3 separate regions of the Homo sapiens genome follow, and all the other regions are linked to region 3. Evidence: fine-mapped expression QTL. A gene starts in region 3. Each other region holds a variant in brackets. All regions are shown on one strand. Distances are between the middles of the regions. Region 1 has its middle 14 kb from the start of SPDYE1. Region 2 holds the start of MIR6838 (microRNA 6838). Region 3 holds the start of DBNL (drebrin like).

The links.
Region 1: its variant is fine-mapped to the expression of DBNL in monocytes (BLUEPRINT, PIP 0.94).
Region 2: its variant is fine-mapped to the expression of DBNL in whole blood (TOPMed, PIP 0.93).

The regions. Positions count from the first base shown.
Region 1 is chr7:43,979,876-43,988,055 of GRCh38, reverse strand. It overlaps the pseudogene POLR2J4. Among named protein-coding and RNA genes, the nearest start is that of SPDYE1, 14 kb to the left of the region's middle. RefSeq lists a silencer at 2,044-2,093. The variant TG/G (reference allele first, on the strand shown) is at 3,204.
Region 2 is chr7:44,069,506-44,077,644 of GRCh38, reverse strand. It overlaps POLM (DNA polymerase mu), which reads left to right. Exons shown (of 11, transcript NM_013284.4): 6 at 1,016-1,136; 7 at 3,115-3,247; 8 at 3,412-3,514; 9 at 3,620-3,862; 10 at 3,937-4,020; 11 at 4,268-5,583. The coding sequence ends at 4,354. MIR6838 (microRNA 6838) reads left to right here and starts at 4,212; the gene lies at 4,212-4,267. RefSeq lists enhancers at 3,207-3,276, 3,347-3,546. The variant G/A (reference allele first, on the strand shown) is at 4,550.
Region 3 is chr7:44,040,972-44,049,151 of GRCh38, reverse strand. DBNL (drebrin like) reads right to left here and starts at 4,450. Exons shown (of 13, transcript NM_001014436.3): 1 at 4,332-4,450. The coding sequence starts at 4,414. It overlaps LINC00957 (long intergenic non-protein coding RNA 957), which reads right to left. Exons shown (of 3, transcript NR_072982.1): 3 at 4,856-4,899. RefSeq lists an enhancer at 3,752-4,252 and a silencer at 4,191-4,410.

The DNA.
Region 1 (8,180 bases), 61 kb after region 3:
TCCCTATGTGAAATGGGCCTGTGGGCCTAAGGGCAGTAGCGGGTGTGTTGCAGGGAGATGCAGGGAGCAGGTGCTGCAGGGGATGGGGCTGGGGAGGGCTGTCAGGCTTGGTAAGGTGAGGGTGGGATCCTGTTGTGTGACCTGTCTGACCATGGTGCCACCCTTAGCCACCCAGAGCTTCACGGCCCCACGGACAAACCAGGACATCCCTGCTCCTGCCAACTTCTCCCAGAGGGGCTACTATCTCACACTGAGGGCCAACCGGGTGCTGTACCAGGCCAGAGGCCAGCTCCATGTCCTCCGTGTTGGCAATGATACCCACTGCCAACCAACAAAAATTGGCTGCAACCATCCCCTACCAGGACCGAGCCCCTACAGGTGAGCGGCTCTGCCAGGCCCTGGCTCCTGCCCGCATGCACCCAAGCCGGAGCCTGGGGCAGCTCCTACGAGGCTCACCAGGGCCCCAGCAGGATGCCTGGGTCCCCTGCTCCTGCTTGGCCAAAGGGAAGAGGAAGCAGCAGGCAGGGGCTGGGGAGGCCTTCATGAATTACATGAATTATCCTTCTTTTTTTTTTTTTTTCCTTTTCTTCTTCTTCGTCGTCTTCTTCTTCTTCTTTTTTTTTTTTTTTTTGAGATGGAGTCTTGCTCTGTGACCCAGGCTGGAGTAGAGTGGTGTGATCTCGGCTCACTGCAACCTGTGCCTCCTGGGTTCAAGCGATTCTCCAGCCTCAGCCTAACGAGTAGCTGGAATTACAGGCATCTGACACCACACCCGACTAATTTTTGTATTTTTAGTAGAGACAGGGTTTCGCCATGTTGGCCAGGTACCTGCCACCATGCCTGGCTAATTTTTGTAATTTTAGTAGAGATGAGGTTTCACCATGTTGGCCAGGCGGGTCTCAACTCCTGGCTTCAAGTGATCTGCCCACCTTGGCCTCCCAAAGTGCTGGGATTACAGACGTGAGCCACCATGCCTGGCCTATCCTGCTTTTCTTGAGCAGAAGGTTCCCCACCTCAAGCCCCAGTCCCCACAGGCCATGTGGACCACTCAGGTGGCGTCTCTCCATCCAGACAGGGTCTCCCCTCACTAAATGCTTGATTCACGCATGTTCAGTTCTGAGAGATCTAATACTCACCCCCTACCTTTCCCAAATGAGGACACAGAAGCCCAGAGAGGGGGAGGGACGTCACACCACTGGAAATGTCACACCTAGATTTGAACCCATTCTGTTGGGCTCTTTCGCCCCAGCCTCCGGCCCCCTCCCCGGGCTGCTCTCGCCAGGGCCTGGGACTCCAGGGGACAGACTTGCAGGCACCAAGTCTGATGGTTTCAGGACTCCGGGGGACCCCCATGGCCAATGCTGGGTCTCCCATTCAGGGTGAAGTTCCTGGTGATGAATGACAAAGGACCCGTGGCTGAAACAAAGTGGTCCAGCAACACTCGCCTGCAGCAAGGTAGGGGCCAGAGGCTCCGGTCAAACAGTAGGGGCAGGGGGCTGGGGCCTGGGGGTCCTGAGGACTGAGGATGGGCTGGGGGAACAGGTCAGCTCACCACTCAGTCAGAGGCAGCCAACCATCTTGCAATCTGCAGGCGCCCCTCCCCCAGCCACCCCCTTCCCCCAGGCCTGGGTGGTGGTAGGGGAGGCAGGGCGGTGATTGGTCTGGATTCTGCCCAAGGGCCCCTTCCGGTCAGGTAAAATTTCTTTTCCTGCCCGCCTATGCGGCCCCCATCACTGCCCTCAGCCCAGGCACTTCGGGCTGTCCCTGGCCCCCAGAGCCCGGGCACCGTGGTCATCATCGCCATCCTGTCTATCCTCCTGGCCGTCGTCCTCACGGTCCTCCTGGCTGTGCTCATATACAGCTGGTGAGTGGACCGGGCTGAGACCGCCCATGCCTCTTGGGAGGGGCGGGGCCCTTGGGCATTAACCCCTCCCTCTCTAGTTCCTCCCCGCCCGCCCCTGCCCACCTTCCAAGCGGGTACTGTGCACCCCCTGGTGGCAGCATCTGGGATTGCAAGTGGTTGCCGCCTGCGGACACCCCAGTCGGGGAGGCGCCCAAGGAGGAGGTGAATTGCTTTCACACCAAGCTCTGAGCATTGCCTCAAGACGCCATACAGGCCGGGTGCAGTGGCTCACGCCTGTAATCCCAGCACTTTGGGAGGCTGAGGCCCGCAGATCACCTGAGGTCAGGAGTTCAAGACCGGCCTGGCCAACATAGTGAAACCCCAGCTCTACTAAAAATACAAAAAATTAGCTGGGTGTGGTGGCACGTGCTTGTAATCCCAGCTACTCAGGAGGCTGAGGAAGGAGAACGGCTTGAACCTGGGAGGTGGAGGTTGCAGTGAGCTGAGATTGCATCACTGCACTCCAACCTGGGTGACAGAGTGAGACTCCATTTAAAAAAAAAAAGGGGGGGGTGTCAGGGTTTCATACAGAGCTCAGGTGCCTGAGCCTGGGGCACAGAGAGTGTCCACAAGGCTTCCTAGAGAAAAGGGGAGACCTAGCCCTGGTGGGATTTGGGGAGGAGGGGGAGAGGGAGTGATAAAAAGGGGGTGGGGAGGTGTGGGGGCAGGAGGGGCAGGAGGAGCAGGAGGGGTGCATGCAGCCAGGCCAGGCAAGGGGCCCCAGGTGCCTAGCTGAGGAACTGGGCTGTATCCTGCAGCCTATGGGAGCCGGGAGTGGGTTTTGATCAGGGGAGACAGGCAGATAATGTTTGAGCGGGGTCCTGAGGTGTGGAGGGTGGAGGGGGAGAGTGATGGGGAGCAGGAGCAATGAGCTGGATTTGTGAGGTTTGAAGGAATCGCCTCAGTCCCTTTGGTTAATTCTGCCCGGCCAGTGGAGTCTCAGTTTCCCCTGTGCGATGGGTCAGAGCATGCTAGCCAATGGCTGTGGGATCTCGGCCAGAGCCTTTCTTCAGCATCCATCATCTCTCCCTCTCTCCTCCCCTCCCAAGCTTCAACAGCTGCAGGAGCACTTCCCTATCAGGCCCAGAGGAGACAGGGAGTGTGAGAAGATACACCACGCACCTCGCGTTCAGCACTCTGGCCGAGGGGGATTCCTGAGGGGTACCAGAGGGGCCCACGTGTCCCTACACCTCCTCCCTGGCCCAGGCTGCAGAGCCTGGGCTGGGACACGCCCTGAAGCTTCTGGACCCTGAGAGAGATTGTTTCTTTTCTTTACTTTTTTTTTTTTTTTTTTTTTTTT[TG/G]AGACGGAGTCTCACTCTGTCGCCAGGCTGGCGCGATCTTGGCTCACTGCAACACGGGTTCAAGCGATTTTCCTGCTTCAGCCTCCTGAGTAGCTGGGACTACAGGCACACGCCGCCATGCCCAGCTCATTTTTGTATTTTTAGTAGAGATGGGGTTTCACCATGTTGGCCAGGATGGCCTCCATCTCTTGACCTTGTGATCTGCCTGACTCGGCCTCCCGAAGTGCTGGGATTACAGGCGTGAGCCATCAAGTCTGGCGAGAGAGATTGTTTCTAGATGAGGGTGGGGGCGGGTGTCCTTAGCCCAAAGCTTGTGCCAGTCTCTATCAGAAATAAATGCCCCCAACACCTCCCTGCCTGCCTCTGACATCATACACCTGGGTAGTCTTTCTGCACCACTGCCCCTGGCTCCTCCTCCTGAGGAGGTCCCCAAGGGCGTGTAGGACCAGGGCAAGGCTCAGGATCCTAGAGAAATTGTCACCTGGGGCAGGACAGGTCTCTCTGCCAGCCTTACTGTCCCTATCTGTAAAATGAGGATGGTAACCCTGAACCCACAAGGCCACAGTAAGGCTAAACCAAGGTGAACATGCCTTGGGAACTGTGAAGACTGTGGACCCAAAGCCGGTTGCGGTGGCTCAGGCCTGTAATCCCAGCACTTTGGGAGGCTGAGGCAGGAGGATCACTTGAGCCCAGGAGTTCGAGACCAGCCTGGGCAACATGGTGAAACCCTATCTCTACAAAAATGACAAAAAATTAGCTGGGCTTGTTGGCAGACTGTGGACCTGAGATAGGTGCTCCTCTTGTCCTGCCCAGACAGCCTCCTGGTAACCAAAGGCCACGGGGCAGCATGGCTGGCACTTGCTATCTTTCCACCCAAGCATCCTCCCTGTGGCCCCTCTCCCCAGCCTGCCCCCTGTTGGCTGGAGGACTTCAAGCCCTCTGCCTCCACTTCCTCCAATCCTTTCCTAGAGTACACGAAAGGCAAAAGGTGCAGTTTCTTTTTTTTTTTTTTTTTTGAAATGGAGTTTCACCTTATAGCCCAGGCTGGAGTGCAGTGGCACCATCATAGCTCACTGCAGTCTCTAATTCCTGGGCTCCAGTGATCCTCCCACCTCAGCCTCCTGAGAGTAGCTGGGACTACAGGCACATGACACCACGTCTGGCTAATTTTTAATTTTTTTGTAGACATGGAATCTTACTCTGTTGCCCAGGCTGGAAAGAACAGTGGTGTGATCATAGCTCATTGCAGCCTCAAACTCCTGGGTGCAAGCGATCCTCCCGCCTCAGCCTCCTGAGTAGCTTGGACTGTAGGTACATGGCACCATGTCTGGCTAATTTTTTAAATTTCTTTAGAGACGGGGTCTCACTATGTTGCCCAGGCTGGTCTCGAACTCCTGGTCTCAAGTGATCCTCCTGCTGGGATTACAGGCGTGAGCCACTGTGCCCAGCTCATGCAACACTTATCATCAGGATTCCCACTCAGTGCTCGGACCCCAGGGGCCAGAGATGCCCGTGGCAAGGTTCTGCCCTCAAGGTGCCCACTGCTTTAGGGGGAGGACAGTGATACTACCACATACGAGAGAAGGAGAGGACACAACTGTCAGGGAGATGGACTGTTTGAGCTTCAGAGGCAGCATCTTGGGGAGGGGTGGCTTTGAAGAAGGAGCAGGACACTTGGGCCAGGTGGACCTTGGAAGGGTGCCAGGCAGGAGGAGCAATGTGTTGCTGATGGGCAGGTAGGGGAGGGTGAGGGATGGAGAGGAGACCGGAAGACACCCTGTGCCATGTGGAGGGGCCCCGCCCTCTGGGGCAAGAGGTCAGGGAGGAGGGCGCTGGCTGGGTTCCCAGGCGCCTGCCCCTGAGAGGCGCAAATGGCCCTAATGGGGTTATTAGGTGGAGCAGATGCATCCGGCTCCTGCTGTGGAGGAAATGCTCAAATGATCTTGAAGCTACCAGGCTGGGAGAGGCAGGCAGGGGATGGGGCAGACAGGCTGCCAACCTCTGTGAGATAAGCCCTGGCCTCTCCAGAACCTTTTCAGAACAGCTTTGAGCCCCAACCCTGGGGCTGAGTGACCCAAGACAGATCACTCACACTCTCTGGGCCTCAGTTTCCCCTTACATAAAAAGCAATGGTTAGGCCAGGTGCAGATGGCTCACACCTCTAATCCTAGTGCTTTGGGAGGCCGAGGTGGGAGGATTGCTTGAGACCAAGAGTTCAAGTCCAGCCTGGGCAACATAGCAACACCCCATCTCTACAAAATATAAATACAAAAATTAAGGCTGGGCATGGTGGTTAAGGCCAGGCGTGGTGGCTCACACTTGGAATCCCAGCATTTTGGGAGGCAGAAGCAGGAGGATCACCTGAGGTCAGGAGTTTGAGACCAACCTGGCCAACATGGTGAAACCCCGTCTCTACACAAAATACAAAAATTAGCCAGCCATGGTGGTGCATGCCTGTAATCCCTGCTACTGTGGAGGTTGAGGCAGGAGAATCACTTGAACCCAGGTGAAGGAGGTTTCAGTGAGCCCAGATCATGCCACTGCACTCCAGCCTGGGTGACAGGGAACAAGACTGTCTCAAAACAAAACAAAAGAAAAATTAGCCAGACATGGTAGTGTGAACCTGCAGTCCCAGCTACTATGGAGGCTGAGGTGGGAGGATCGCTTGAGCCCAGGAGTTGGAGGCTGCAGTGAGCTATGATGGCACCCCTGGACGCCAGCCTCTGTGACAGAGCAAGACCCTGTCTCTAAAATGAAACATTTTTAAAAGGGAAGGTGAACTGGGTGAACTCTAAGACCCTGCATTTCACAAACCCTTGCCCACACCCTGTATGCGTCGGGCCCTGGCAGGAAACAGAGGGTACGCTGTCTCACAGGGCAATTGAGAGCGTTTACAAAGGTGTGGGCAGCATTAGGGGAATGGACCAGAGAGGGTGACCTGGGACTTGGCTGTAATGGGGCCCTAAGCACTCCTGGATCTGATTGCTGATGGGAGGGAGGGAGTGATGTTTCCTGGATCAGCAGGCAGTAGCCATGGGTGAGGGGCCCCGCAGGAGCAGGGGCTGTAGGTGAAAGGATGAAGCCACCAGAGGGAACTGGGCTCTGTCTTCCCGCCCCCTGATCTCATGCCAGTGTCTCCACTGGCCACACCTCACGAGAAGCAAGAGAGTGTGGGGTCTCAGTGGTGCAGTCCCTGGAGGCCAATCTGCTGGGTCAGAGCAGGACAGAGAAAGCGAAATGGACATACAGAGGCACACGCCACTTTCATGCTGATCCAGTGGAATTAGATCCTTCCTGTTCTTTCTTTTCTTTCTTTCTTTTTTTTTTTTTTTTCCTTTTTTAGAGATGGGGTCTCACTCTGTTGCCCAGGGTGGGGTATGGTGGCGTCTTCATAGCTCACTGTAGCACTGAACTCCTGGGCTCAGGCGATCCTCCCACCTTGGCCTCCCAAAGTGCTGGGATTTCAGGCACTACAGGCACCTAGCTAACTTTCTTTCTTTCTTTTTTTTTTTTTTGGGTAGAGGCAGGGTCTCCGTCACCCAGGCTTGAGTGCAGTGGCACGATCATAGCTCACTGCAGCCTTGAACCCCTGGGTTCAAGCAATCCTCCCACCTCAGCCTCCCAAGTAGCTGGGATTATAGGATGTGCCACCACCCAGCTAATTTTTTTATTTTTTGTAGAGATGGGGTCTCGCCATGTTGCCCAGGCTAGTTTGGAACTCCTGAGCTCAAGAGATGCTCCCACCTTGGCCTCCCAAAGTGCTGAAATTACAAGCATAAGCCACCATGCCTGGCCTCCCTTCCTGGCCTTCTGGTCTCCAGACTGGAGAGAGGGCCACAAAGTCCTGCCCAGACAGAGGGCTGCTAAGGCTGGGGTGGGGCTGGGGGTGTGCAGAAGGGACTCTGCAGGGGCTGACCTCTGAGTCTCAGGGGACAGGGCAAATTTTTTTTTTTTTTTTTTTTTGAGATGGAGTCTTGCTCTGTCGCCCAGGCTGGAGTACAATGGCACGATCTCGGCTCACTGCAATCTCCGCCTCCTGGGTTCAAGTGATTCTCATCTCTCAGCCTCCCGAGTAGCTGGGATTACAGGAGTGCACCACCATGCCCAGCTAATTTTTGTATTTTTAGTAGAGATTGGGCGGGGTGGGGGGTGGGGTGCAGGTTTCACCGTGTGGCCCAAGCTGGTCTCAAACTCCTGACCTCAAGTGATCCTTCCGCTTCAGCCTCCCCAGGTGCTGGGATTACAGGCATGAGCCACCGCACCCAGCGGGGACAGGACAATTTTGCCAGCTGGAGAAGGGGTGGCCCCCAAATGTCCCCTTCACCACCCTCCTGCCTCTTCCTTCAGAACACTTTTTCCCTGAAGCCCTCCTGGGTAGCCCCCTACCCACATGCCTCAGCATTGGGATGTGGGGAGTGTGGGGGTCCCCCTTGCTCCTCAGCCCCATTTGGAGTAATGTCCTGTGCAGCTGAGCTCACAACTCCTCCTCCACCTGTCCCTCCACCCGGTGTCACTGGCAATTGCTCACTTCCTGGGCCTGCACCCACTCAGCTCCCCTATCCCTGGGCACCAGCCTCAGCCAGCTCCCATGTGGACTAATGACCCTTGTCCCTCCCCTCAGCTGCCTCTCTTTTTTCTTTTTTTTTGTTTTTGAGACAGAGTCTGGCTCTGTCACCCAGGCTGGAGTGCAGTGGCGCGATCTTGACTCATTGCAACCTCCACCTCCTGGGTTCAAGCGATTCTCGTGCCTCACCCTCCTGAATAGCTGGGATTACAGGCACCCGCCACCATGCCCGGCTGATTTTTGTATTTTGGTAGAGACGGGGTTTCACCATGTTGGCCAGGCTGGTCTCAAACTCCCGACCTCAGGTGATCCGCCCGCCTCAGCCTCCCAAAGTGCTGGGATTACAGGCATGAGGCAGCTCGCCCGGCAACCCTCAGCTGCCTCTCATATGTCCTTGGCCCCCTGGCCATCT
Region 2 (8,139 bases), 29 kb before region 3:
GGGGCCTGAAGATGATGAAATCCCCTTGAAGTGGTGTGAGGTTAGTGAGTACTTTCACTGTCAGCCTCAGCCCCAGCCCTGAAGGCATCTAGGCTGGCAGAAAATTACATTAGTAATGAGAAGTTTATTAACAATATAATTGGGTTAATCTCATCATTTTTAGTCAGGATTCTTTGGGTTGCAAGTGACAGTGACCCACCCCACACCGTTGGTTCACAAAATAAAGGAAAGGAGGGCCAGCAGAGCCCAGGATGGGGAGGGCTGTGGCCGGTCTGCAGGACAACTGGGCTCAGCGACCTGGGTATCACCAGGCCACTCCTCCTCCCCTCTGCCCCTCTGCACGGTGGCTTCGCCCTCTCTTGCGACGCACCAGCTTCTTCCATCGGTTGGAAATGTGGCCACAAAAGGTGCTCGGCTGCCACAGGCTACAGCTTCTGCCACTGTGTGGGCCTGCCCTCAGTCTCAGATCCAGAATTCCTAGGGAGGGACTCTAGTGGCTGACCTGAAGCAGGTGACTTGCTTGGGCTGGGGCCCACCCTCTGTGGGAAGATATGTGAGCACCCCAGCCAGCCCTGCCAACTCTGCTCCTAAATCCACCCTTTTGATTGTTAACTCCTCATTGTTTTTTGCTGTTGGCTAAGGAGGAGAACCACAGAAATTTGTTCCACCTTCTGTTAGGTGGGAGAGGCATGGTTTTTCCAGTGACTTAGGAGCCCCTCGTGCTGATGTGTTAGGGTGACTGTTTTGATTATGTTGGAATCACAGGCTAGAGCTGTGTAAGTCCCTTTCATAGAGGAGAGGAGAGGGGTGTGCGTGGGTTTGTTCCCAGAGACGGCAGGCTGGGTAGTCAGGCTCCAGGTTTGAATCCTTGCCCTGTGGTCTACGGCAGGTTGCGAGTGGGGACGGCGCCTGCCTGGTGCATGGTGCTCCATGGGCCACACCGTCCCGGAGCGGGTGATCATCCGAGTCTAGCCATGAGAGCTCTGCCCAACCGGGCTACGCTCCTTCCCCACAGCTCTTCACCCAGATCTTCGGGGTCGGTGTGAAGACTGCTGACCGGTGGTACCGGGAAGGACTGCGAACCTTAGATGACCTCCGAGAGCAGCCCCAGAAACTAACCCAACAGCAGAAAGCGGGTGAGCCCTCCAGAGAGGCTGGGCCCTGGGCTTCCCTAAACTGCACCCTGGATCCCTCAGCATCAACTCCCTAGAGGGAAGGGAGCAGTCTGGTGCAGAGGGTTTGGTGGCAGCTTTGTGTGGTGGGCTTCCTGGGGTCTCCACCCAGTGCAGTCAGGATCTATCAAAGCCTTTTCTCAGTGGACGATGCTGACCACAGCAACTTCCATGATATGCCAGGGGCTTGTGTCTGCCTACTGGTTAGACTTTGACCAGTGACCAGGGACAGCCTGGGCCTTGGGCACACTGCCCAGTGTGGTGCTTGGTACATGGAGGCCTGCAGAGGTGGCACTGAGCAGCAGAAAGAACATCAGCTTTCAAGTTTGTTAGGCCTGGGTTTGAGTCTTATCTACCATTTGCCAGGTAGGTGACCATTGCCCAAGAAATAACCTCTCTGAGTCTGTTACATTTTCTGTAAAATGGAGAAGGAAGGCTGGGCATGGTGACTCACACCTGTAATCCCAGCACTTTGGGAGGTCAAGGTGGGTAGATCGCTTGAGCTCAGCAGTTCAAGACCAGTCTGGGCAACAGGGTGAAACCCTGTCTCTACGAGAAATACAAGAGTTAGCCAGGCGTGATGGTGGATGCCCGTAGTACCAGCTACTCATGAGGCCGAGGTACAAGGATCGCTCGAGCCCGGGAGGTCAAGCCTTGAGGCCAAGGTGGAAGTTGCAATGAGCTGAGATTGAGCCACTGCACTCCAGCCTGAGTGACAGAGCAAGACCCTATCTCAAAAAAAAAAAAAAAAAAAGGTGGGAAGGAATGAATTCGTAGGCTCCCCTGTGAGAGCCGGCAAGTGGCAGGTGTTGAGCAGATACTCTGTTCTCTCTGCATGGCCTGCCTGGCTACTCTGGCCACACCATCTGGGACCTCCCTTGGGTTGAGGGCTCTGCTGAAGCAATCCCCACAGCCCAGCAGGCACTGCCAGCTCCACTGCCTCTTCGCACATCTTCCCCCGGGCCACTGCCCAGTTCAGCTGACAGGAGGTGAGACCCGCAGAGCTGGTTCCTCTTGATCGCCTCTCCCCATGGCAAGAGTAGTCAGGAATGGTTAGCAGCGTTTACTGAGAGCTCACTGTGCCAGGTGCTGCTGTTCCTCACATTTAAACCTCTCCTTAGCTGGGTGCCATGACTCACATCTTTATGTAGTCCCAGCACTTTGAGAGGCCGAGGCGGGTGGATCACCTGAGGTTAGGAGTTCAAGACCAGCCTGGCCAACGTGGCGAAACCCTGTCTCTACTAAAAATAAAAAATTAGCTGGGTGTGGTGGCAGACACCCGTAATCTCAGCTACTCGGGAGGCTGAGGCAGGAGAATCACTTGAACCTGGGAGGTGGAGGTTGCAGTAAGCTCAGATTGCGCCACTGCCCTCCAACCTGGGCAACAAGAGCGAGACTCCATCTCAAATAAATAAATAAACCTCTCCTTAACTGCGTGTGGGAGGCTGATAGGTGAGGAAACAGAAGTAGGCCAGAGTGAGGTGTTCGTCATGGCAAAGCCATCTTCCATCCTTTTACCACCTCTTGGTCCCACTTTATGCATAAGGAAAAACAGCCATCAAAAGAGATAGCCTGTGGCATGACTGTATCAACATCAGTATCCTTATATTTGGTTGCAAAATTATAGTTTTGTAAGGGGTTAACCTTTTGGGGGAGCTGGGTAAAAGGCACATGGGATCTCCCTCTGTGCTATTTCTTTTAACTGCGAGTGAATCTACAACTGTCTCAAAATAAAAGTTTAAAATTTAAAGGGGGAGAGAAGATAGTGTCAGGCTTAGATTGGGATCTCACTCTGCTCCCTGCCCTAGCCTCACCTTCCTCGGAGGCCTCTCCTGGTCCTGCAATGACGGGGCCCCAGGTTGATCACCTCATGCTGGTGAGGGATGGGGGCTCGGTGTGGTGGGCAGGCTGGGTGAGTCAGGAGGGCCGGTGTTGCCCCCAGGGCTCCAGCACCACCAGGACCTGAGCACCCCAGTCCTGCGGTCCGATGTAGATGCCCTGCAGCAGGTGGTGGAGGAAGCTGTGGGGCAGGCCCTGCCTGGGGCCACCGTCACGCTGACCGGCGGCTTCCGCAGGTAAGAAGGCCCGACGTGCCCCTCTGGCTTGGCTTCAGACCCCTCCCCAGTGAAGGGACCTGAGTCGGGGACCCTGAAGCGGGCCCACTCGTTGGAAGGGATGTGGCCTGGGGCTGGAGTGAGCAGGCCGTGTCCCTGAGTCAGAGTCAGACTGACGCCCTCAGGGGGAAGTTGCAGGGCCATGACGTGGACTTCCTCATCACCCACCCCAAGGAGGGTCAGGAGGCGGGGCTGCTGCCTAGAGTGATGTGCCGCCTGCAGGACCAGGTGAGGGCCTCCCTGCTCCCCAAGAGCCACCGCTGGCCAATGCCACTGCCTCCTGCTCTCTCCACACCACCGGATGGTCTCAGCCACGCCCGCCTCTCCCCACAGGGCCTCATCCTGTACCACCAGCACCAGCACAGCTGCTGTGAGTCCCCTACCCGCCTGGCCCAACAGAGCCACATGGACGCTTTTGAGAGAAGTTTCTGCATTTTCCGCCTACCACAACCTCCAGGGGCTGCTGTGGGGGGATCCACGAGGCCCTGCCCATCCTGGAAGGCCGTGAGAGTGGACTTGGTAGTTGCACCCGTCAGCCAGTTCCCTTTCGCCCTGCTCGGTTGGACTGGCTCCAAGGTAGGCAGTGTGCCGCTGGGCCGCCTGGGGGTGGGGCTGGGCCAGCCCTGCTGAGGACAATCCCTTCCCTACAGCTTTTCCAGCGGGAGCTGCGCCGCTTCAGCCGGAAGGAGAAGGGCCTGTGGCTGAACAGCCATGGGCTGTTTGACCCGGAGCAGGTACATTGTTGGGGACTGGGGACAGCAAACAGCACCCATAGTCCGCTCCCTGACCCACAATCTGAAATGGCCCCAGACCCCTCCAGCCTGAAACCCATAGGACCCGAATCTGGGTCTCCACACACAGTTCCTGGCCCTCAAGAGCACACCCCACCTCGGCGCTGGGCTCTTCCCCACCCTCAGTCTTCCTGCAGGGAAGCAGCAGTGGCAAGACTCCTAGGTCACGGAAGTCCTGCTTCTGTTGCAGAAGACATTTTTCCAAGCGGCTTCAGAGGAAGACATCTTCAGACACCTGGGCCTTGAGTACCTTCCTCCAGAGCAGAGAAACGCCTGAGCCTGCCTGTGTCCCCCACTTCCACTCAGGAAATTGGGCTGCCCCCAACCTGGCCACTGAATGTCTCCAGGCAGATATGCTGCCCCCTGACCCCCACCTTCACCCCTCCCCGCCAAGGCCTGGCTCTTCCGGAGGTCAATTGTGCCTGCAGGATCAGTTGAGCCCCTGCTGGTGTGCTGCAGGGTGTGATGAGGT[G/A]GGAGCCCTCAGTGCCAGCCTCATCACTGTGTGACCCTGGGTCTGCTCTTAGCCTCCCCATGGCTCACGTTCCTGCCCTGGATGGGATGTGAGTGGGGCCCACATCGTGGAGCTGTGGTGGGGCCTGCAGTCATGAATGGCAAGTGGTCCCTGATGTGCAGTGTCTCATTAGTTGCACTGCAGTTAACTGTGGCTCCTGCAGGGCACCCTGCCCAGAATGCCCAGAAGAGAACCATGCATACCTGCACTGCATTTGAGAGCCATGAGCTGGAGGCTGTGGTTCGTGCCAGCAAGGAGCCTACTGTCTGGTGTGCTGTAGGCATCTGGAGAGGGAGAGGGCCTGGGTAGGAGCTGGGAGGAAGATAATTTTCAACTATGGGGCTTCAGTACTGCAGCGCCCCGAGCCAGGCTCTGTGCTTCTGCCTTTAAGGCCTGTTCTCAGCACAATGTCTCAAAAATAGGTCATATCCTGCCACTCCCGTCGCAGAGCCCTTTAATGGTTCCAAACCCTAAGTCCACACATAGCCCCTGGCTCTGGCATCTCTCCAGCCCCACTGGCCCCGAGCTGCTTGACTCACCGGCTTCCTATTTGATGCACCCAGGCCCCCTTGTGGCCAACTCCCTCCCCTTCTCACTGAGGCAGAAGCACTGAGGTGGGCTGGACATGGGTGCCCTCCACGTCCCTCATATCCCCAGGCACACTCTGGCCTCAGGTTTTGCCCTGGCCATGTCATCTACCTGGAGTGGGCCCTCCCCTTCTTCAGGCCTTGAATCAAAAGCCACTTTGTTAGGCGAGGATTTCCCAGACCACTCATCACATTAAAAAATATTTTGAAAACATGCAGTAAAGTTGACTCTTGGGGTGCAGTTTTTGCACACGTAGGGCACACCAGGTCCATCCCCAGAACACTTCCCATGCTGTCCTATTGTGGTCATGTGCTTCTCCACCCCCACCCACTTAGCGGTGCTACATCCCTATAGTTTTGCTTTCTCTAGAATGTCATGTAAATAGAACCAAACTATATTTAACCTTTGGACTGGCCTCTCCCCACAGCCTAATGCCTTTGACGTTCCTGCAGGTTGCTGGGTATGTTGAGTTTGTAATTTGTTCCATGCCATGGGTGTTCTACAGTTTATCCATTCAGGTGTTGAATGTCTGGGTTGTGGCCGGATGCCGTGGCTCATGCCTGTAATCCTAGCACTTTGGGAGGCTGAGACGGGTGGATCACTTGAGGCCAGGAGTTTGAGACCAGCCTGGCCACCATGGCGAAACCCCATCTCTACAAAAAATACAAAAATTTGCTGGGCATGTTGGCTCATACCTGTATTCCCAGCTACACGGGAGGCTGAGGCATAAGAATTGCTTGAACCTGGGATGCCAAGGTTGCAGTGAGCTGAGATTGTGCCACTGCACTCCAGCCTGGGCGACAGAGCAAGAGTCTGCCTAAAAAGAAAAAAAGTCTGGGTTGTTTCCAGGGTTTGGAGATGATGAATCGTACTGCTACAGACATGCATGTACAGGTTTTCGTGTAACACATGGGTCTTCATTTCTCTTGGGTAAATAGGCACAGGATTACTGGGTCATTTGGTAAGTATATGTTTATTTCATAAGAGCCAAGTTGTTGTCCCGAGTGCGTCTGTCATTTTGCAGTCCACCAGCGTTGTGAGCACCCCTGTAAGTTAAACACCACAGTAGGCAGTTGCTCTGTATCCCTGTCAGCACTTGATAGTTGCAGTATTTGTTAACTTTAGCTTTTCTAGTAGTAGGTACATAACAGTAGCTCACTGTGGTTTTATTTTCATTTCCCTAATGCCTGATAACGTTGAACATCTGTTCACTGGCTTCTATGTCCTCACTGGTGAAGTGGCTGTTCAAGTCTCATTTTTAAAAATGGAATTGTTGGCCAGGCATGGTGACTCACACCTGTAATCCCAGCACTTTGGGATGCCAAGGTGGGTGGATCACCTGAGGTCAGGAGTTCGAGACCAGCCTGGCCAACATGGCAAAACCCAAAGTGCTAGGATTACAGGCATGAGCCACCATGCCCATCTGTTACTGTTCAATCTTGAGAGTTCTTTATGTGCCACTATGGTGACTGGTAAATATTTTTTCCCAGTGTGTAGACTATCTTTCTTCTTTTAGCACTGTTTTTTTCATAGTAAATGTATTTAATTTTTGTGAAGTCCAGTTTATCAATTTATTCAGTTTACCAGTTTTTTTCTTATGTTTTTGGAGTCCTATCTCTGACCCCAAATCACAAAGATTTTCTTTGCTTTCTTTTATAGTTTGTTTCTTTGTTTTCCCCAGAAACAGGGTCTTGCTCTGTCACCCAGGCTGGAGTGCAGTAGTATGATCATAGCTCACTGCAGTCTCAAACTCCTGTGCTCAAGCAATCCTCCTGCCTCAGCCTCCCAAGTAGCTAGGACTACAGGCACAAGCCACCAAGCCCAGCTAATTTTTTTTTTTTGAGACGGAGTCTCGCTCTGTCGCCCAGGCTGGAGTGCAGTGGTGCGATCTCGGCTCACTGCAAGCTCTGCCTCCCGGGTTCACACCATTCTCCTGCCTCAGCCTCCCGAGTAGCTGGGACTGCAGGCACCCACCACCACGCCCGGCTAATTTTTTATATTTTTAGTAGAGACGGGGTTTCACCGTGTTAGCCAGGATGGTCTGGATCTCCTGACCTCGTGATCTGCCCACCTCGGCCTTCCAAAGTGCTGGGATTACAGGTGTGAGCCACAGTGCCCGGCCTTGAGTTAATTTTTATATAAGTGTAAAGTGGGGATTCATTGTTTTGCACGTGGAAATCCAGTTGTCCCAGCACCATTTGTTAAAGATACTATTCTTTACTCATTGAATTATTTTGGCACCCTTGTCAAAAATCAATTAACCATTGTGTGAAGGATTTTTCCCTGGACTCTCAATTTTTGCATATGTACTCATAAGAGGTTGGTCTGTAGTTTCCTTAGGTTGTTTGTCTGGGTTTGGTATCAGGGTAATACTGCCCTCAGAGAATGAGTTGTTACCTTTTACTTCAACCTACTTGTATCCTGTTATATTTAATGTGAGTTACTTAAAGACAGCATATAATTAGGTTTTTATAATCCAAACTGATAATATGTCGAATTGGCGTGATGAGGCCATTTATGTTTAATGCAACTATTGAAATGTTTGGCTTTAGATCTACCATTATGTTGTTTTCTGTTTGTTCCCTGTTTTCCATTGCTGTTTCTTCTTTCCTTTTTTCCTTCCCTCCTATCTCTCCTTCTCCCTATACACACACACACACACCCCCAACACACACACATAGTGGTTGTTCTAGGGGTTCTAATACACATAGTTTTTTTGTGTTTTTTTTTTTTTTTTTTTTGGAGATGGAGTTTCGCTCTTGTCGCTCAGGTTGGAGTGCAATGGCACAATCTGGCTCACTGCAACCTCCGCCTCCCGATTTCAAACAATTCTCCTGCCTCAGCCTCCCGAGTAGCTGGGATTACAGGCATGCACCACCACACCTGGCTAATTTTGTATTTTTAATAGAGACAGGGTTTTGCCATGTTGGTCAGGCTAGTCCCGAACTCCTGACTTTAGGTGA
Region 3 (8,180 bases):
CCAGGTGGGTGGCTCGTGTCTGTAATCCCAGGACTTTGGGAGGCTGAGGCAGGAGGGTCGCTTGAGCCCAGGAGTTTGAGACCAGCCTGGGCAACATGGTGGGACCCTGTCTCTACCAAAAATACAAAAATCAGCCAGGCGTGGTGGCATATGCCCGTAGTCCCAACTACTCGGGAGGCTGAGGTGGGAGGATTGCTTAAGCCTGGGAGGTCGAGGCTACAGTGAGCCATGATGATGCCATTGTACTCCAGCCCAAACAACAGAGTGAAACCCCAACTCTTAAAAACAAAAACAAAAACAAAACTCTGGTAAAGATTCATTCTGGCTTGCTAATAGCATGAACCTTGCAGCAACTGAACATCCCCAGCAGGGCTGCTGGACATGGGCTGGAGGCACTGACCCACTGGACTATAAGTCAAAGGCAAAACCCAGTCCAGTGTGTGTCATCTCCCCAGGCTCTAAAGCACAGGCCTGCTGAGGCAGGCCAGACAGAAGCTCCAGGGATAAACAGTCGGACAGGAACCAAATCAGCTTCAACTTGGCTTCCCCAGGGCTTTGCCAGTGCCACTGGGCAGAGATACTTATGCCTCAGAAAAATGGAAGAAATTAGACCCAGGCCCAGTGGATCTGGTTGGTAGGGAGGAGACAGGCCTCCGGGAAAAGGCACTCCTTACCAGGAGGGGAGACAGAATACAGGAGAGAAACACTGAATGAGAAACACTCAGAGAAAAGGAACTAGAGAAAAGAACACAGAAAAACAAGAGAAAGATTTGGGAGGTGGCACACTGCCAGCATGAGCTGGGGGGAACTCCCTGGAGGAAAGAAGCCCATTCCTCTTGATGGCCACAAAGCCCTGGCTCCCAGAAGATAGCAAGCTGGCACAAGCAGCAGGTAACAGAAGATGGCAGCTCAACCCAGCTCTTGCAAGAAGGGACTCAACCAGCTGCGATGGCTCATGCCGGTAATCCCAGCACTTTGGGAGGCCAAGGCGGGTGGATCACCTGAGGTTAGGAGTTTGAGACCAGCCTGGCCAACATGGGAAACCCCGTCTCTACTAAAAATACAAAATTAGCTGGGTGTGGTGGTGGGTGCCTGTAATCCCAGCTACTTGGGACGCTGAGGCAGGAAAATCACTTGAACCTGGGAGGCAGAGGTTGCAGTGAGCCAAGATCGTGCCACTTCACTCCAGCCTGGGCGACAGAGCAAGACTCTTGTCTCAAAAAAAAAAAAAAAAAAAAAAAGGGACTCAGCAGCTAATATAATAAGAGCCAAGCTCAATGCCTGCCACCTATCCCTCTGACTTGATCCCTCTCTACCCCAGGCCACCTTTAAGAATGTTCCCAGCGCAGAGGCTCATTCCCAGTTCAGAGGCCTTTTGAAAGAAGGGCGAAGGAAGTTTCAAATCAACATGAAAAAACATGGTGCACTGGCCTCTGAACAGCAAGGCATATGGAGTGTCAAGCATCTTATAATTCAATAGTGCCTTTGAAAATAAGTACTGAGAGCCTACTGCTTATTAGTTACAGGAATGCAGCTATGAACAATCCCTAAAAGGTCCTGCCCATGGAACTTACTTTCTAACGGAAGAAAAAACACACACCTAACACTAACGTACTATTAGAGAGTGAAGCAGGTGCTGAAGGTGACACATGAACCAGGTGAGAACAAACCATGCCAAGATACGGAGTAAGCAGGGGCGGGAGACAGATCCAAGATGGAGAGCTGATGTCATGGTTGCTCCCCACTCTATCTGCCCTCCCCAATGCCAGCACTGTGTGTGTGAAACCTCTTATGACCCACCAAACTAGAGACCACCTCTTCTTCCTCTGATATCTCTACCACTTTTTCTGTATGACTTGGTCCATCCTTCATCTAAGCATCTGCCACATGTAACAACCGTGCCTCAAGCACCGAGGACAGAGACAGAGCCCACCCCACCCCTTCTAGTAAGAGATAAAGGTGACAAGAAAATCCATAAGGATTTCCAGCATATTTTGTGTCTGGCATGTGTCTGAAGGAAGTCAAACAGAAAGATGGGAAAAAGTGCCTACAAACAAGGAGCTAGGAATCAAGGAAGGCCTCTCTGAGAAGGCAACCTCGGGGCCAAGAAGTGAAGGCTGGGGAGCCACCTGGGACGATGTGGAAAAAGTGTGCTCCATGCAGAGGAAGCAGCAGAGCAAGGACTCTGAAGAGGAACCAGCTTGTAAGTTTGAGGAAGAGAAAGACGGCCAGAGTGGTGACAAACAGGTGTGGCCACAGTGTGGTAAATGAAAGGGGTGGTAGGTTCTGGGTCATGCAGGGCATCAGCAGGGCAAGGAGTCTAGGCTTTATTCAACATGCAACAGGAAGCCACTGTAGAGTTACAGACACGGAAGTGACATGGTCCAGATATTTTTCCGCAGTGTGCAGGAATCTGCCACATAGTATCTGCTGAGTAACTACCTTAATGGCTGTGACGATGAGGGTGGAGGTCAGTGGGTTATGCTGCTGAGTGACACAACCTGTAGTGCTGCAGGAGCCTGGAGGTAGGGAGGGAGCATAGCATGGCTGTCTGGGCAGATGAGTCCAGTGAGATGGGTGGGTTCTGACTTCATGAGGGGAAAGAGGAGGCTCCACAACCCTCATGAGGGACAGAGAGTAGATGGGGTGGGTAAGCACCGGGCCAGGAGTGGTAGCAGACAGCTCTCGTAAGCAGCCCAAGGAAAGGCTAGGAACATAGGAGGTCTGAAGAGGGAAGCCCAAACTGCCAGGTGGGCTGGGAGGCATCATCCCAAACCAGTGATGGTTCCTGAGAAGACTGATGATGAAGAGAGACCTGGAAGGGAGATAGATGAGGAGTGCCAGGAAGCTCCTAGGTAAGTCTGCCAGGGTAAACAGAGTGATCAAGAGCATGTTAAGAAGCAAAATCTTTAATTTGGCAGGGCTGAAGAGGGGCAAAGATTCTTCTGGGTTCTAAAGCCAAGTGGTATGATGTGGACATGAAAATGGGGCACTCATTGCAGAGATACTTTTGACTGGGTTTGAAGTAACAGGAGAGGTCTAAGAGAAACACGAACAGGAATAGGAGAGAGGCAAAACAGAGGGCTGACATCTAGAAACTCTCCTGAGAAAAATAACACTGACTGACGTGGGTAAATCTGAGGGATTATAAAGCAGGCAGAAAACCCCACCAAGGAAATGACGAGATATCCTTCTTTAGATGCCTCCAAAACAGAAGATGTGCTGTTTGGCATAAGTGCCATCCAGGGCACTCAGACCTGACAGGAGAGTCTACAGAGACCCCATAGAACCAAGCAACTGGTGTTCTAAAGCTCTTCCCCTAATGGCCCAGGGCTGAGGAAAAAGCAAAGCCATAACATCCTCAGGGTCACAATAGTACACTGCATAAAAGCCGCTCTGTGCTGGGCACTACGGAGAGCAGAGGAGATGAGAAAGCACTTACACAAGTGGAGATGGCCCCCACACAAGGGGAAGACAGTTGGGAGGGCCTCAGTGCTGACCACAGTGTGGCCCCACCACGACTCAGACTCCAAGGCCCAGTTTCTATTCCCCAAAGTTGGTCACCTTAGCCCACCATACTCAGCATATTTCTCAGAACTGGGATTTCTCAAAACTGGTCAGTAAAAACAATTTAAGCAAAGAGGAAAGTGAGGATATCTTGGGTGGTAGAGGGAAAATGGGACCTTTTCCCAAATAGATAGCGAGCATCCTACTTTCGTACATCTTCCCATGGCTCAGGCACAAGAAAGAGTACACTTTTTGGAGAAACGAAAGTTCTGAAGTCCACGTTCACAGACAGCCAAGAACCCAGATCCCTGAGCTCCTCGTCTGAAGCCCCCAGGGCAGGGCTCACATTCACAGCCCGGCTGCCAGGCCGCTCTCAAATGCCCATCCCCGAACACAGCGTTTGCAAAAAAACCGGGCGTGGCTTCCGCCTTCTCAGAGAGGGCTGTGCAGGAACCCCTTCTCCAGGGAAGTCCCAGGACTGGAAAGAAGAACCTGGCGAAGCTAGCAAGCACGACCAGGCCGAGGATCCAACATGGAAGCCCGCGAAGCCCACAGTGGGTGGCGAGCGACAGGGGGAGGGGCGGGGACTCACTGGGTCCCCCCAAGCCGGGTTTAACCTGTCCACGATCGGCGGGGCAAGGGGTCACGAGGGTGAGACAGCACTCCTGCTGCGGTGTGGAGGGGCAGACAGGTAAGCCCCAGGCCACCTGCCTGGGCACCGCTCCGCGCTCGCGCTCCCGCTCCCCCCGAGTCCCCCGCTCGCCCCAGACAGACCCACCCCTGAGGCAGCCCCTGGCCCGACCCTGGCCCGTCTCGCCGCCCACCAGTCGGTCGGGGACTTCTCGGTGACCACCCGCACGTAGGCCTCTTGCAGCGCTGGCCCGTTCCGGCTCAGGTTCGCCGCCATGGCCCGCCCCGCAGTCTCCGCGCCGCTGCTGTAGCTTCCGGGCCGGGCCGGGCCGCCCCTTTGACAGCCGACAAGCCTCGCCTCCGACAACCGGAAACCCCGCCCCACGGCAGGAAGCGGAAATGGTAGGGGCCAGCCGCACCCGCGGGTCCTAGCGAGCTGTCCGGCCAGCTGGTCTAGCATGCAGGTCCCGCGAATGCCGAAGGACAAGCGGGAGAAGGGAGGACCCGGCCTTCTGTTTGTCCTCAGGGAGGGATCCTGGGGCGCAGACTAGCCCGTCTTCTGGTCCCACCCAAACGGCAGCTCGACTTGGAAGCCTGGCCGCAGGGACCCAGTCCAGCCCCCGCTAGCTGCTCTCACAGCACCGTGCTTATTCTTTTCTAAATCTTGTTATGTCGATGCGCTTATTTGAACGATCTTGGGTTCACTGCAGTCTCCCTCCAGACGAGGTCTTCAGCCTGTTTGTGGACCCTCAACAGTTTGATCTGTGAAAGAAACATGCATAAATGTATGAATACACGAATAAATGAGTGCTAAGTGACGATCACACCGCTACAAACCTAACTGAAAGTGACTGTGCTTTCTCACTCTCACCTGAGTTTTTCCCTCTGCAGTTTGGTCGAGGCCAGGATAGTGGAGGCATGAAGAGAACCTGTCTTGTGCTTCACCTGCACATCTGGCTGGTCGCCCCTAGAAGGTGTCAGTAATTCCTCAATCTGCTCCCCTCCTCCTGGGAGCACCAGTTTTTCCATCCACAAATCTGCATACACTTGACTGAACTAGCTTCTTATCTGTATGATAGAGAAACATGCCAAAGCGCAAGGCAGCTCACGGCTTATTTCCTCCCATGGAGAATAACTCCCCTGCCTCCTTAAAATATAAATCCTGCCGGGCACGGTGGCTCACGCCTGTAATCCCAGCACTTTGGGAGGCCGAGGTGGACGAATCAAGGGGTCACGAGATCGACACCATCCTGGCTAATACGATGAAACCCCGTCTCTACTAAAACAAAAAATTAGCCAGGCGTGGCGGCGTGCGCCTGTAGTCCCAGCTACTCGGGAGGCTGAGGCAGGAGAATGGCGTGAACCAGGGAGGCAGAGCTTGCACTGAGCCGACATAGCGCCACTGCACTCCAGCCTGGGCTACAGGGCGGGACTCTGTCTCAAAAAAAGTATAGTATATATATACATATATACACACACATAGTATATATATGTGTATATATATACACACACACATAGTGTATATGTATATATACTATGTGTGTATATATGTATACATATATGTATATATATGCATATGTATAGGTATACATATATGTATATATGCATAGGTATAGGTATACATATATGTATATATATGCATAGATATAGGTATACATATATGTATATATATGCATAGGTATAGGTATACATATATGTATATATATGCATAGGTATAGGTATACATATATATGTATATATATGCATAGGTATAGGTATACATATATGTATATATATGCATAGGTATAGGTATACATATATGTATATATATGCATAGGTATAGGTATACATATATGTATATATATGCATAGGTATAGGTATACATATATGTATATATGCATATGTATATATGCATATGTATATATGTGCATATGTATATGTATATGTGCATATGTATATATGCATATGTATATGTATATATGCATATGTATATATATGCATATGTATATGTATACATATATTATATATGCATATGTATATGTATATATGCACATGTATATATATACACATATGTATATATATGCATATGTGTATATATATACATATAGTATATATATGTATATATCCACAATCCCTTAAGTCCAGATGTGCTTTGGAATTCAATCTAAGATTTCAGAAAAGTTATACCATGTATGTCCTGGGTAAGCCCTTATCACAGGATCTGGACAGGAACTGGTAATCAGACATGTTCATGCTTTTGCTGTGATATGTGTGAATAATCAGCTAAGTGTGTGATATGTGTGAATAATCAGCTAAGTGGAATATAAGACGACTCTAAATATCCTCATGACAATTAAGGTCAGTTTTTGCTACCAAATGAACTACCAAAATCTTAAGGTGTTTGAGTCTGGATGGTGCAGATAAGGGCTTGTGAACCTAATTTGGACAAAAACATGGTTCATTTGTTATGCCCATTTTTCTTTCTGTTCACATGATTGTTGCTTGTTGTCTTGTTTGTTTTGTGCTGCTATAACAAAGTACCACAGACTATGTAATTTACATAGAACAGAAATTTATTTTCTCACAGTTCTGGAGGCTGGGAAGTCCAAGGTCATGGCACTAGTATCTGATGAGGGGCTTCTTGCTGCATCATAACATGGTGAAAGGCAAAGAGGATGAGAGAAAGACAAAAAGGGGCCAGACTCATTCTTTTTTTTTTTTTTTTTTTTGAGATGGAATCTCACTCTGTAGCCAGGCTGGAGTGCAGTGACCACGAACTCGGCTCACTGAAACCTCTGCCTCCCAAGTTCAAGTAATTCTCCTGCCTCAGCCTCCTGAGTAGCTGGGACTACAGGCACGTGCCACCATGCCCAGATAATTTTTGTATTTTTAGTAGAGATAGGGTTTCACCATGTTGGCCAGGATGGTCTCGATCTCTTGACCTCGTGATCTGCCCACCTTGGCCTCCCAAAGTACTGGGATTACAGGTGTGAGCCACCCTGCCCGGCCCCAAACTCAGTCTTTTCTAATGAACCTGAGGCAGGAGAATAGGGGCTGGAAGCAGGCAACAGAACGCCAATGCACACTAACCTCCTAGAACCAAATCAAAAGGAAAACGCCTACTTATGACCAAGTAACAAAAGACCAACACCCTGTTCCGGAGCAACTCTCTGGCCTCAAAGTCCATGGAGTCTTTTCTGAAGGTGAGGTTGCATGCTATATTGTCCTCATCTTGCAAATGACAACACTGAGCTTCAGAGAGAGCGACAGAGGGGGCTGGGACTTCGACTCCAGTGTTCTATCTCCATATTGAGAGCCCTTTAAGGTTAAGAATGTGGCTGGGCATAGTGGCTCATGCCTGTAATTCCAGCACTTTGGGAGGCTGAGGCGGGCGGATCACTTAAGGTCAGGAGTTCGAGACCAGCCTGGCCAACATGGCGAAACCCCATCTCTACTAAAAATACAAAAATTAGCCTGGCATGGTGGTGGGCACCTGTGATCCCAGCTACTGGGGAGGCTGAGGCAGGAGACTCACTTGAACCAGAAGCCAGAGATTGTAGTGAGCTCACGCCACTGCACTCTAGCCTGGGCCCCGTGCTAGACTCCGTGCCCCGCACCCCCCCCCCCCAAAAGAATGTGTGTGTGATTAAAATTTAAGTTAGAGACAGTCTCACTATGTTGCCCAGGCTGGTCTCAAACTCCTGGCCTCAAGTGATCCTCCTGCCTCGGCCTCCCAAAGTGCTAGGATTACAAGGGCTAAGAATTCTAGTCATTCATTCACTCACTCATTCATTCATTCATGAATAAACAGTTTGCCCTGCTTGTGTACCTGTCCCCCTCCTGGGCGGATACGGCAGGCAAACGGTGCAAGGGCGGCTGCCGGGAGAAGGTGGGCAGCTGGAGTGGGACTGGGGGAGACAGGATCAATGTGACCTGCGGTGGTCCCCAGGTGGCCGGGATGCAGTACCTGCACGGCGTCCTGGGCCCCATCATCAACAAGGTGTTTGAGGAGAAGTACGTGGAGCTGGACCCCAGCAAAGTGGAAGTTAAGGATGTAGGGTGAG